4 separate regions of the Homo sapiens genome follow, and all the other regions are reported to be linked to region 4. Evidence: microRNA targets listed by miRTarBase, many of them from high-throughput screens and not tested one by one. Region 4 holds a microRNA gene; each other region holds the end of a gene's coding sequence.

Evidence for each region. The annotated mature microRNA hsa-miR-365b-5p reads AGGGACUUUCAGGGGCAGCUGU and lies in region 4 at 1,663-1,684, shown strand. An mRNA with a match to its seed (bases 2 to 7 or 8) in the 3' UTR can be bound and repressed. Matches are read on the target gene's strand: a 7mer-m8 pairs with bases 2 to 8, a 7mer-A1 pairs with bases 2 to 7 and ends in A, and an 8mer does both.
Region 1: miRTarBase lists TLR10 as a target of hsa-miR-365b-5p. Seed matches in the 3' UTR shown: 7mer-A1 at 758-764.
Region 2: the mRNA of ZC3H7B is a reported target of hsa-miR-365b-5p. Seed matches in the 3' UTR shown: 7mer-A1 at 1,021-1,027.
Region 3: the mRNA of TTC38 is a reported target of hsa-miR-365b-5p. The part of its 3' UTR that is shown has no 7-base or 8-base seed match.

Annotation. Positions count from the first base shown.
Region 1 is chr4:38,770,439-38,773,518 of GRCh38, reverse strand. It overlaps TLR10 (toll like receptor 10), which reads left to right. Exons shown (of 4, transcript NM_030956.4): 4 at 1-1,281. The coding sequence ends at 364. Among named protein-coding and RNA genes, the nearest start is that of TLR10, 11 kb to the left of the region's middle.
Region 2 is chr22:41,356,998-41,360,073 of GRCh38, forward strand. It overlaps ZC3H7B (zinc finger CCCH-type containing 7B), which reads left to right. Exons shown (of 23, transcript NM_017590.6): 23 at 180-3,076. The coding sequence ends at 432. Among named protein-coding and RNA genes, the nearest start is that of TEF, 23 kb to the right of the region's middle. RefSeq lists an enhancer at 2,999-3,076.
Region 3 is chr22:46,292,465-46,295,544 of GRCh38, reverse strand. It overlaps TTC38 (tetratricopeptide repeat domain 38), which reads right to left. Exons shown (of 14, transcript NM_017931.4): 14 at 1,537-2,754. The coding sequence ends at 2,661. It overlaps GTSE1-DT (GTSE1 divergent transcript), which reads left to right. Exons shown (of 1, transcript NR_024009.1): 1 at 1-402. Among named protein-coding and RNA genes, the nearest start is that of GTSE1-DT, 2.7 kb to the left of the region's middle.
Region 4 is chr17:31,573,777-31,576,856 of GRCh38, forward strand. MIR365B (microRNA 365b) reads left to right here and starts at 1,635; the gene lies at 1,635-1,745. MIR365BHG (MIR365B and MIR4725 host gene) reads left to right here. Exons shown (of 3, transcript NR_186556.1): 3 at 1,735-1,883. MIR4725 (microRNA 4725) reads left to right here and starts at 1,493; the gene lies at 1,493-1,582. RefSeq lists an enhancer at 1-209.

The DNA.
Region 1 (3,080 bases), not on the chromosome of region 4:
GTCCATCTTTGTTTTGTCTCCCAACTTTGTCCAGAATGAGTGGTGCCATTATGAATTCTACTTTGCCCACCACAATCTCTTCCATGAAAATTCTGATCATATAATTCTTATCTTACTGGAACCCATTCCATTCTATTGCATTCCCACCAGGTATCATAAACTGAAAGCTCTCCTGGAAAAAAAAGCATACTTGGAATGGCCCAAGGATAGGCGTAAATGTGGGCTTTTCTGGGCAAACCTTCGAGCTGCTATTAATGTTAATGTATTAGCCACCAGAGAAATGTATGAACTGCAGACATTCACAGAGTTAAATGAAGAGTCTCGAGGTTCTACAATCTCTCTGATGAGAACAGATTGTCTATAAAATCCCACAGTCCTTGGGAAGTTGGGGACCACATACACTGTTGGGATGTACATTGATACAACCTTTATGATGGCAATTTGACAATATTTATTAAAATAAAAAATGGTTATTCCCTTCATATCAGTTTCTAGAAGGATTTCTAAGAATGTATCCTATAGAAACACCTTCACAAGTTTATAAGGGCTTATGGAAAAAGGTGTTCATCCCAGGATTGTTTATAATCATGAAAAATGTGGCCAGGTGCAGTGGCTCACTCTTGTAATCCCAGCACTATGGGAGGCCAAGGTGGGTGACCCACGAGGTCAAGAGATGGAGACCATCCTGGCCAACATGGTGAAACCCTGTCTCTACTAAAAATACAAAAATTAGCTGGGCGTGATGGTGCACGCCTGTAGTCCCAGCTACTTGGGAGGCTGAGGCAGGAGAATCGCTTGAACCCGGGAGGTGGCAGTTGCAGTGAGCTGAGATCGAGCCACTGCACTCCAGCCTGGTGACAGAGCGAGACTCCATCTCAAAAAAAAGAAAAAAAAAAAAGAAAAAAATGGAAAACATCCTCATGGCCACAAAATAAGGTCTAATTCAATAAATTATAGTACATTAATGTAATATAATATTACATGCCACTAAAAAGAATAAGGTAGCTGTATATTTCCTGGTATGGAAAAAACATATTAATATGTTATAAACTATTAGGTTGGTGCAAAACTAATTGTGGTTTTTGCCATTGAAATGGCATTGAAATAAAAGTGTAAAGAAATCTATACCAGATGTAGTAACAGTGGTTTGGGTCTGGGAGGTTGGATTACAGGGAGCATTTGATTTCTATGTTGTGTATTTCTATAATGTTTGAATTGTTTAGAATGAATCTGTATTTCTTTTATAAGTAGAAAAAAAATAAAGATAGTTTTTACAGCCTACACATCCTACTCATTTGGCTTGATTCTTCTTTCTGGTCTCACAGGTCACAGGAAGAAAAGCACTCCTGAAATATAATTTTTGCAAAATTATATTTCAAAAATGACAATTTTGCAAAATTATATTTCAAAAACAAACATCATGTCACTTCTCTGGTTAGAAAAAAATTTTGTGGCTTAAACACATGATTCAGGGAGAGAATGTCATGCTCCTTTAAGATCTGACAGCAATCTCCTTTTATATCCTTGCATCTTCTTTATTTTTAATTTTTAGAGACTAGCTCTTGCTCTGTCACCCAGGCTGGAATGCAGTGGTGCGATCATAGCTCACTGCAGTATTGAGCTCCTGGCCTCAAATGATCCTCCTGTCTTGGACTCCCGAAGTGCTGGGATTACAGGTGTGAGCCACCACACCCAGCCCCTCCTTGCATCCTATCATTGGGCCCTATGGAGCTACTGGCCCTTCCCCAGAACTTTCAGTGTTCTTTCATGGCTCCAGAGCCCAGATTTCACATCATGCCTGCTGTAATGCCTTCCCTACTTGGGTTTGTTCAGGAAATCTTACAGTTCTCTCAGGACACAATCCACATATCGACTCTTCTTTGAAATCATCCTCACTCTTTCCCGTAAGCATGATGCTTCTTGATTCTCTTCCACACTTTGGACATATTTCTATCACCAACCTAATTATGTACATTTTTAAAGTTTCAATTTCCCACTAGACTATGAACTCCTCAAAGGCTAAGACAGACTTACATCTGCCCTTGTGTCTGCAGCAGTCCCTGGTTCAGAACTGGTGCTCAAAGAATGTTTATGGAATGGATGTTGGGTTGGCTAGAGGAGCTTAGTGGGAACTCAACTGGCTTAAGGATAGATGGTGGAATTTAAAGGCATATTCTGAGAAGCTCAGGAAGAGCAGGAATAGGTAAAACTCAGGTAAGAAGACAGAGAATCCAGAATTGTAGGATTCCTAAGTAGAGCTCACGTCATGTGAAATTGCCAAAATTTGGTTGCTCTCGACCTAGAAAAGCATCTACTTTTAAAAATCTCATTCCATCTGTATTAGGGTTCTCTAGAGGGACAGAACTAATAGGATATATATATATATATATATATCACACAATACTATATCTATATCTATATCTATATCTATATATATATATTGCAAGGTCTATTGTGGGACCTTGTAATTGTGTGGGTCAACACTCCTTAATAAACTCCTATATATATAGGAGGTACATATATATATAAAATAGGATATTACATATAGGATATATATATAAAATAGGATATATATATAAAATAGGATATATATATAATAGGATATATATAGGAGCTATATAGGATATATATACAAATATATATAAAGTATATATAAATATATATACTTTATATATATAATAGGATATTATATATATATAGGATATATATAATAGGATATTATATATATATAGGATATATATAATAGGATATTATATATATAGGATATATATAATAGGAGATATATATATAATAGGAGATATATATATATAATAGGAGATATATATATATATGAGCTTATTAAGGAGTATTGACACACACAATTACAAGGTCCCACGGTAGACCATCTGCAAGCTGAGGAGCAAGGAAGCCAGTCCAAGTCCCAAAGCTGAAGAACTTGGAGTGCAATGTTTGAGGGCAGGAAGCATCCAGCATGGGTGAAAGATGTAGGCTGGGAGGCTAGCCCAGTCAAGTTTCGTCATGTTCTTCTGCCTCCTTTTATTCTAGCTATGCTGGCAGCTGATTAGATGGTGCCCTCCCAG
Region 2 (3,076 bases), not on the chromosome of region 4:
AATTTGCAGCTGTGGGGCAGATCCCAGAGAGGGTCAGGACACCCAGGTTTTCCCTGAGCTGGGACCCAGCTGCCCAGGGAGAGGCTTGTCTTCGGGGAGGTCAAGCGGCCGGCCCCAGATGGACAGCCTGGGGTGGGAAGGGCACAGAGCTCGGGCAGTGAGCCTCCTGCCACCCACAGGCTCCAGAAGGGCAAAGCCTGCCCAGATGGGGACAAGTGCCGCTGCGCCCATGGACAGGAGGAGCTCAACGAGTGGCTGGACCGGCGCGAGGTGCTGAAGCAGAAGTTGGCCAAGGCTCGCAAGGACATGCTGCTGTGCCCACGGGACGACGACTTTGGCAAATACAACTTCCTGCTGCAAGAGGACGGGGACCTTGCCGGTGCCACCCCAGAAGCCCCTGCTGCTGCTGCCACCGCCACCACTGGGGAGTAGGGCCAGGTGTTGGCCGTGGGTGAAGTCCTGGGGTCAGGGGGTGGGGTGGGGCCAGAAGGCCTGATAGAAGGGTCAGGGCAGGCCAGGGGGGTGGGGGGCCGCCCTCATCAGGCAGCCCCCAGCCCCCTGAGGCCCTGTCCATCTTCTCCCCACCACCGCCCCGGTGTGCGTACCCAGGCGCACGTGCTGCAGCCCCCGGAGGCCCCGCTGAAACCTGGGCTGCCCTTCCCCCACCCCCACGGCTCTCCTGGTTGAGGAGGGAGGGGCCTGGCTGACCCCTCCAGCTTCAGCCTCCAGCTTTAACTTCTGTCTGCTCCTAATGGGGGCCCAAAGCTCAGGGCTGGGGAGCCTGGGGTCCCCACTTGAATCTCCAGCAGGAGGGTCCTTCTCTCCCTGGCCCGTCCTCCTCCCACCCCCTCCCCCTGGGGGCAAATCAGGACACAACAGAGGGCAGAGGCCCCATTAGCTTTAAAATGTAGCCCCAGGTTGGAGCTGGGAACACTGTACTGGCCACTTACCCTCTGGGGCCTCAGCTTTCCCTCCGGAAGGCTGGGAGGAGGTGGGCTAGATGATCTTTGGAGCTTAAGGAGTCCCAGCCCTTTCTCTGATGCCACCACCTGAACCCTGCTCCCTCGTGGGCCAGTGAAAATAGACTGTAGGTCCTCAGAGCCTTCAGAGATGATCCAGCCCAAACCCCATTTTGCAGAGAGGAAAACTGAGGCCTAGAAGGGAGGAGTGGTCCACCCACGGTCCCAGCACAAGGCAGAGCTGGGATGAAAACAGGGCTGAAAAGACTCAGGGCCAATTATTGGCTGAGCCCACGGTCCCCTCAGCAGGGATGCGATGGTCTCTGAATCAGTGTGCAGCTGGGGTCCCAGGCAGCGCTGCCTGGGGGCTGGGGAGGGGAGGCCCAGAGGAGGGCTGGCCATGTGAGCACCCCATGAAGGGACCGCCCCCTCCCAAGGATGGTCCCTTTGGGTGCAGCAGCAGAGGTCACCTCCTGACATGCGCTCTGGGAAAGGTGGCAGAGGGCAGGACACCATGAGCTCAGGATCTGTGTGAGGTGTGGGAGGTGGGAAGGGTGAGGGTCTGGGGGAATGCGGAGAAAAGGGAGGCTTGACCCCGGGCACCATGGGCCACTCCAGGATGGGACACGGCCCCTCTTTCTTGGGGACCCAGTATGTCCTCTCCTCTAGACCCAGACATACAGTTATAACCGTCTGTCCTAGCCCCTCCCTAATCCCTGGCCCTCCCAGCTGTCTGGGACTTCAGTGGACCCCCAGCCCCTGCCCCCACTCACCAAGGCCTCGCTCGTCCCTCTCGTCTGACATGTCTGTGTGCACCCCCCTCCTCTCCACCCTACCTTCCATCAACCAGGGCAGATCCACCGTGCCCTGGTTCCCCAGACATTCCAGAATGCCCCACATCATTGGCACAGGAGTGGGGCAGCCCCGGAAGGAACCAGGGATTAGGCTGTAGGGGGGTGAGAAGGAGAGAAGGGACCACCCCATTCTTCTCAAGCAAGGATTGCCAGCGCGCGCTGACACAGTGATGGGCTGCCCAGGGCTGGAGGGGACGCTGTTCCTCCCGCCGCCACTGCCCAACCTTTCCTGATAATCGTGGCATGCGCCCTTTCCTCTTCCCTGCCCCACCCCCTGGCCGCAGCAGGCCAGCACTGCAGAGTTTGGGTGCTGGTGGTGTGGCTGTAGGGGAGGGGAGACCACACCCAAGGTGGGGGCTGTGGCCATGTGTGGCCGTGATGTCGATGATACTCGTTTTCCCTGATCCGTGGTGTTGCAGTCCGTTGTCACCAGCCTTGTTTCTAGTGTGTATATATGTCGCCCCCGTGATGCATATATACACAGGTATTAAATATATCGCTCTATATAATATTATATATGTGTGTGGTATCCAAGGAATCACTTTTATGAGGGCTAAAGATAAAGAATTTGGCCAGAAAATGCAGCCATCCTTGTGTGATTAGGAGGGTTTCAGGGGCCACTGGACTATTTGCAAGGTGACAGGGACTGGAGCCATGGCTCAGAGGTGATTCGGGCAGCCAGGGACAGGAGCCACCCTCCCCAGGCCCAACTCTGCTAGCTTCCCAGACCACCCCCATCGAGTGCGGAGAGAGTGGGAGTGCTCAGGGAAAGAAGGTGATTTGTATTTGTCTCCCCGCTGAAAAGAACAGGATTCAAGTCCAGAGTTTTCATCTTCAGCCTGTGATCTGTCCAGGGACCCTTGGGATCTGGGGCTTCCTGGCCTGGCCAGAGCTGGAGCCCCCACAGGGTAAGGAAGAGAGAGTGGGAGGCAGAGTGTGATGGGGAGGAGGGACAGGAAGACCCTTTTAATGATGAGGGTAACTATTTCAGTTGTGAGCCTTCTAGGGCCCCAGGCTGGGAGGCTCAGAGGACTGAATCTGGGACCTGTGTTCCCCCCGGCAGGCAGGGACAAGATGGCATGGCAAGCATGGGGGCGGGGTGGGTGGGGAGGGATGCTGCATTTCTCAGCTGGGCAGTAATCAATTTAATGGTCCTTTAAAATGTCTGTGTATTAAAAATTTAAGAATACCACACTTTAATATTAAATATTCATAAGGTCTAGTATCTTGATAATAATGTAGATGTTTTAATAACAATTTTTG
Region 3 (3,080 bases), not on the chromosome of region 4:
GTAGGTGTGGCCTATGTATGGCAGATTCATTTCTGCCCCCAATAGGATTTGCTGTAGTTTGGATGTGTGTCCCCTCAAAATCTCATGTTGAAATGTGATCCCAATGTTGGAAGTGGGGCCTGGTGGGAAGTAATTGGGTCGTGAGGGCAGATCCCTTATGAATGGTTCAGCACCATCCCCTTGGTGATGAGTTCTTGCTTAGTTCACACAAGATCTGGTTATTTAAGAGTCTAAGACCTCCCCTTCTCTCTTACTCCTGCTCTCACTATGTGATATACTGGCTCCCCATCACCTTATGTCATGATCTTAAGCTTCCTGAGGTTGCACCAGAAGCAGATGCCAGCACCATACTTCCTGAAAAGCCTGCAGAACTGTGAGCCAATTAAACCTCTTTATAAATTACCTAGCGTCAGGTATTTCTTCATAGCAATGCAAGAAGGCCTAATACAGAGTTTGACTTCATTTATTTATGCCTTCATTCACCAACTTTCACTGACAGCTACTCAGTGCAGGCCATGTGCCAGGTGATGCTGGGGACAGATGCTGTCCCTGACCTGGAGAGGTCATGGCAGGGGTGCAAGAGCAAGGGCAAGTGCCAAGGGCTGAGGGGCACAGAGGCAGCACCCTCACCAGCCTGCAGTGGGGGTTGGCGGGTAGAAGGCTTCCTGGAGGAGGGACCAGGGTTCCCAATTGCACAGCCAAGTCATGTCTTCTTGCTTGGAACCAGGAGAGGGGAAGGAGGCTCCCCTTAGGATGTGTCCCTAGTTCTTGGGTAGAGAAGGCGCCTCTCTGGAAATACTACTATAATTACCCCTTTTCTTTCTTTCTTTTTTTTTTTTTTTGAGACGGAGTCTTGCTTTGTCGCCCAGGCTGGAGTGCAGTGGCGCGATCTCCGCTCACTGCAAGCTCTGCCTCCCGGGTTCACGCCATTCTCCTGCCTCAGCCTCCCGAGTAGCTGGGACTACAGGCGCCCACCACCATGCCCGGCTAATTTTTTGTATTTTTAATAGAGATGGGGTTTCACCGTGTTAGCCAGGATGGTCTTGATCTCCTGACCTCGTGATCTACCTGCCTCAGCCTCCCAAAGTGCTGGGATTACAGACGTGAGCCACTGCGCCCGACCTCCCATTTTCTTGACTAGATGCCCCACCTACTTTTTTTTTTTTTTCCCTTGAGATGGGAGTCTCGCTCTGTTGCCCAGACTGCAGTGCAATGGCACGATCTTGGCTCACTGCAATCACTGCCTCCCAGGTTCAAGTGATTCTCCTGCCTCAGCCTCCCGAGTAGCTGGGATTACAGACGTGTGCCACCATGCTCAGCTAATTTTTGTATTTTCAGTAGACACAGGGTTTCACCATGTTGGCCAGGCTGATCTCGAACTCCTGACATCAGGGGATCCACCCACCTCAGCCTCCCAAAGTGGTGGGATTACAGGCGTGAGCCACTGCGCCTGGCCTGCCCCACCTACCTTAAGTTCAAGGAGAAGCCATCTCCCCAGGACCCAGCCCCAGGCCTGCACCACAGATGCTCAAAGACTTGGAGGAACTGATGAATTCATTTTAATCACAGAAATTTGCCTGGGCTTGAGCAAACTGTGGGGACTCAATAGATTTGGAGGCCTCCTCTCCCTTCTGAGAGGCCTGCCTGCTTCCTGCCCTGATGAATCCCTAATTTCAGTACAAACTGAGGAACTTGAAAAACATCTGTGCACTGGGACCGCCCCTCACAGGAGGGCTGAAAGCAGCACAGCTGAGTCAGCGGCACATTCAGCAGGCGTTCAGTGGGGAAGCAGGAGACAGAGGCGGCGCTCACAGGACCCGCTCCAGGCTTGTCACAGCCACACATCACAGCACTTTGGGTTTTGCCACAACAGAGCAGCTCTGAGCTCAATCCTTGCACCTCAGAAGTGCATTTATGATTAAAATCATGCTCGACATGAAGCCCTGTTATGATGTGCAGTTTAAAAAGAGAAACGGGTCCAAATCAGCACCAACAGAGCCCCCCAGGGGGCTCCAAGACTCGCCCCAGAGACAGCAGAAGGACCCCATGTGCGCGCTGATCTGTAAGAAGGGTGGTGGATGCAGCAGCAGGGGGCTGCGTCCAAAGGCAGCAGGTGGGGGCCTCTCATAGTGTGACCCTGGGCAGGCCACTCCCCTACCCCGGTACCCTCACCTGAAAAATGGGACAGCAACACAATGAGACAACAGAGACTGTCTAGAATATAAAGAAAAGAATGAAAAGGTCCATCCCAAGGGCAGCCTGGTGGGGACGGGGACAGGCAGTGGGGGGAGGCTGCCTCTGGAAGACCTGTCCCAGCAGAATCAGCCCCCACCTCTGCCCTGCCTTCCAACCTTTGAACCACCAGGCAGTAGACACATTCCCCTGGGAAACAGAATTTGCAAGGCAGGTGGAAAGAGCAGCACTCACACTGGCTGTGACTGCTGAAAAATGCTCATTGGCCCTTCTCGAGGACTGAAAGGAGATTCGGAATCACATTTAAAATTAACCCGTGACCCACTTCCTGTAAAACTGAAGATCACCCTCTAACAGCCCTAACAAACAGGCTCTGGCCGTCTCCTGACCCTAACCCGGTGGAGCAGCTGACTGGACGCAGTGACGCCACCACTGAGGTTCTGCAGGGTGGAGGCGGCCAGGCTGGCTCACTGCATGAGGTGGACGGTAGCTGCCTTGCGGATGAGCCGCTCGGTCAGGGGCGAGTTGGGCTTCAAGGCATCACGCTCCATCAGAAGGCTCCTGTGGAAACAGACACAGAGGTCCTGTTACAGAACCTTCTAGAGGGATGTGGGGCCTGGTGGTCCCTTGGTCCCAAGGCAGAACACAGGCAGGCTAGACTGCGGCACTGAGGGAACAGCAAGGGCCAAGGCCCAGGGGCAGGAGGCCTGGCCTCAGTTTGGGGAGAGGTGAGGATGGGAGGGCACAGACCTCCAGTGCAGGAAGCCACACCCGAGATGGGGCACAACAGGTGGCAGTGGGGAAAACCCAGGTTTGAAGAGAGAAGACCCAGGTACGGTTTGAGGTAAAGACCCTGCTGTGGACTGAATGTCTGTGTCCAGGCTAAA
Region 4 (3,080 bases):
TTATTCCTATTACAGATAAGAGAGCTGAGGCTGGGAAGCCGAGTAATTTACACAGGGTCAGGTCATACAGCAAGTTAGCAGGTAGTGGTGCCAGCAGCTGGCTGTCTTTTGTGGGGATGTGTTTTCACCACAGCGGTGGCAACCTGTGTCCTGACAGGCCAGGTTCCTGCATGGACAGTGGGGCCCCCAAAGAGCAGGTGCAGTGCCAGGCTGGACAGATTCCAGCTGTGCCGGGGCCTTGGGCAAAGTGGCCTGGCCTCAGGAGACACGTTTCCTGTTGCTGGGTGACATTCCACAGGTGGGAGGCACATGCAGGACCTCATTCCCTAGGGGCCTTCCTGGTCTGGGCCCTGATGCCCTGACGCTGGGGTTGACCCTCTACTGCCCTGGAGGCTCACCTGGGCCTCGGGACAGAAGGGATTGTCCCATTAAGGAGAATCCTCTACGAGTCTCTGATTCTGGAAGCTCTTGTTTTTTATCCTCCCATACAAAAAACAAATTGGCCACCAGTCTCTTCCCTTCTTTTTGGCCACTGTCTCACCATCTCCTTCACCCAACCTTGGTTTCTTTCAGCCTGTGCTTCCCAGCAGAGCCTGTGGGCTTGTTGATTTGAACCCAGAAACCACCTAGGACATTCCAGAGGTCTTCACACTTGTCTTTGTTGCCCATTGTAGGCCGTTTTCATAGAAGGGTATTGGGAGGACCTGCCTTCCCACTCAGGCCAATGTGAAGCTGTTGCTCTTTTGCTAAGGGCAGGGTGGGATATGGCCGAGAATTGGTGGGCGGGCCTGAGATCCATTCAGCAGCACCCCAGGGCGTGCTGTTTCTCACAGGTTGCAGCCTCTTCCAGCCCCTTTGCTTTCTGTGACAGAGCTGAAAGTCTCATTTCCTCTTTGGCTTTCCCTTTGAAATGGGAGAGAGGGTGGTGGGAGCTTAGCTCCTTCCAGGCCCATTTTACAGGCAGAGTAACCAAGGCCGCGACTGCTGGAGAGAAGCGGAACCGGAGTTCCCGTGCCCATTCCTGTTGGAATCTCCTGTCTGTGTGCCGTTCTTTAAGATGGGCTGGAGAGAGTCGGGGCAGCTCTTCTCCCGGGTTTTCAGGCCTGGGTTGCTCTTCTGGGCACTTCCTGGTGTTTTCTTCTCTTTGCCTGAATCAGGCCTGGCCTCAGGCCTGGTTACAAGAAGGTTGGAGGCTGGCTGTCTTGTGTTCATGTGTCACGCCAGGCCTGAGACCATCATTGTCTCTCTGAGATGGTCCACGCCCCTCCTGTGAACACAGGGGCTACAGACTATAGTATAGTTCTTGCCACGTTCCCGAGTTTTGGGGGCTGCTCTCCACATTGGGATTCCACCAGGATGCTGGTCTGCAGTTTCCTGCAGGCAGAAGGCGCTGGGTTCTGAGTTGGCTTTAGGTGGAACCCAGGTCATTCCTGGGTATGCCTTGGGAGGGCGGCGAGGCTGGCCGCAGCTGGGCCCGGCATCGGAGAAAATTGTGTCTCTCTGGAGACCCTGCAGCCTTCCCACCCACCAGGGAGCTTTCCATGGGCTGTGGGGAAGGCGTCAGTGTCGGGTGAGGGAACACCAGCTTCACCTCGGCTCATCTGGGCGTGGCAGACGACTGCTTCCTCACCTGGAGAGTGTTCAAGGACAGCAAGAAAAATGAGGGACTTTCAGGGGCAGCTGTGTTTTCTGACTCAGTCATAATGCCCCTAAAAATCCTTATTGTTCTTGCAGTGTGCATCGGGCAGCGGCCAGCAACCTGCCTCTCACCCACCTGGCCCTTCTGGGAGGACCGGGACTTCCTGGGGTCAGATTGGAATGTACGTCCAAAATAAGAGTGAATGGGGATTTGCTGATTATTAAAACAATTTTGTTTGCGTGCATTTTTAGCATCTTCTCTTCTGGTGGAGGATTGGAGTGGCTGAGGGTCGGGAGGGCTGGACATCAAGATATTCCTGTGCAGGTTGGAGCCCAGGAGGGTGCAGGAACTCCCTGGTTTGTGTGCAGTGAAGGCCTGGAAGAGCCTAGCTGCACGTGCAGTGCCCAAGGAAGGTCATCTTCCGGGTCAGTGATGTTAGAGGCAACAGAGTTGGGCTGGACAAGATGCCCCCCAACCTTTCCTGAGAAGTTGAGGCAGGAGTAGAGGAGGCATCTATCTGCGCAGGAACTTGCATTGTATTTTAAAATAGAAGGCAGCCTGGCCAACATGGCAGAACCCCATCTCTGCTAAAAATACAAAAGTTAGCCGGGTGTGGTGGTGTGTGCCTGTAGTCCCAGCTACTCGGGAGGCTGAGGCATGAGAATTGCTTGAGCCCAGGAGTTGCAGGTTGCAGTGAGCCAAGATTGCACCACTGCACTCCAGCCTGGGCAACACAGTGAGACCTTGTCTCAAAAAATAAATAAAATAAAATAGAAGGAGCCTCAGAATCCACTGTCTGTCTGAGACCCAGTGAACTAGCCATTTTGAAAATAGAACAGTGAATTGAGGGTCTTTCCCCCTCTACTGTGACCCTGGAGCTTGCTTTTCCTTGACTGAAAGTCCTCCATCCTTATTTCACTTCATGGATCTCCTCCATTCTCAGCAGGTCTCCCTACCCCTGCCCTATCCAGCCCCACCCTGCAGATACAGTCATGCACTGCCTAACGATGTTTTGGTCAACGAGGGACCGCATGTAGGACAGTGGTCTCATAAGATTATAACACTGTTTTTACTGTGCCTTTTCTGGTTAGGTACACAAACGCTTGCCATTGTGTTCTAATTGTCTACAGCATTCAGGATAGGAACGTGCTGTACAGATGTGTAGCCTAGGAGCAATGGGCTCCCCCACCTAGCCTAGGTGTGCAGCAGGCTATTCACCATCTAGGTTTATGTAAGCACACTCTGTGAGGTTGGCACAATAACAAAATCACCTAACAATGCCTTTCTCAGGATGGATCCCCGTTGTTAAGTGACACATGACTCTATTTTGACCAGCCAAGGCTTTTGGAGGTCCTGGGGGATTGTCGAGAAGCAGAAATACCTTTTTTTAAATTATTATTATTATTTTTATTTGTTTTGAGATGGAGTCTTGCACTGTCGT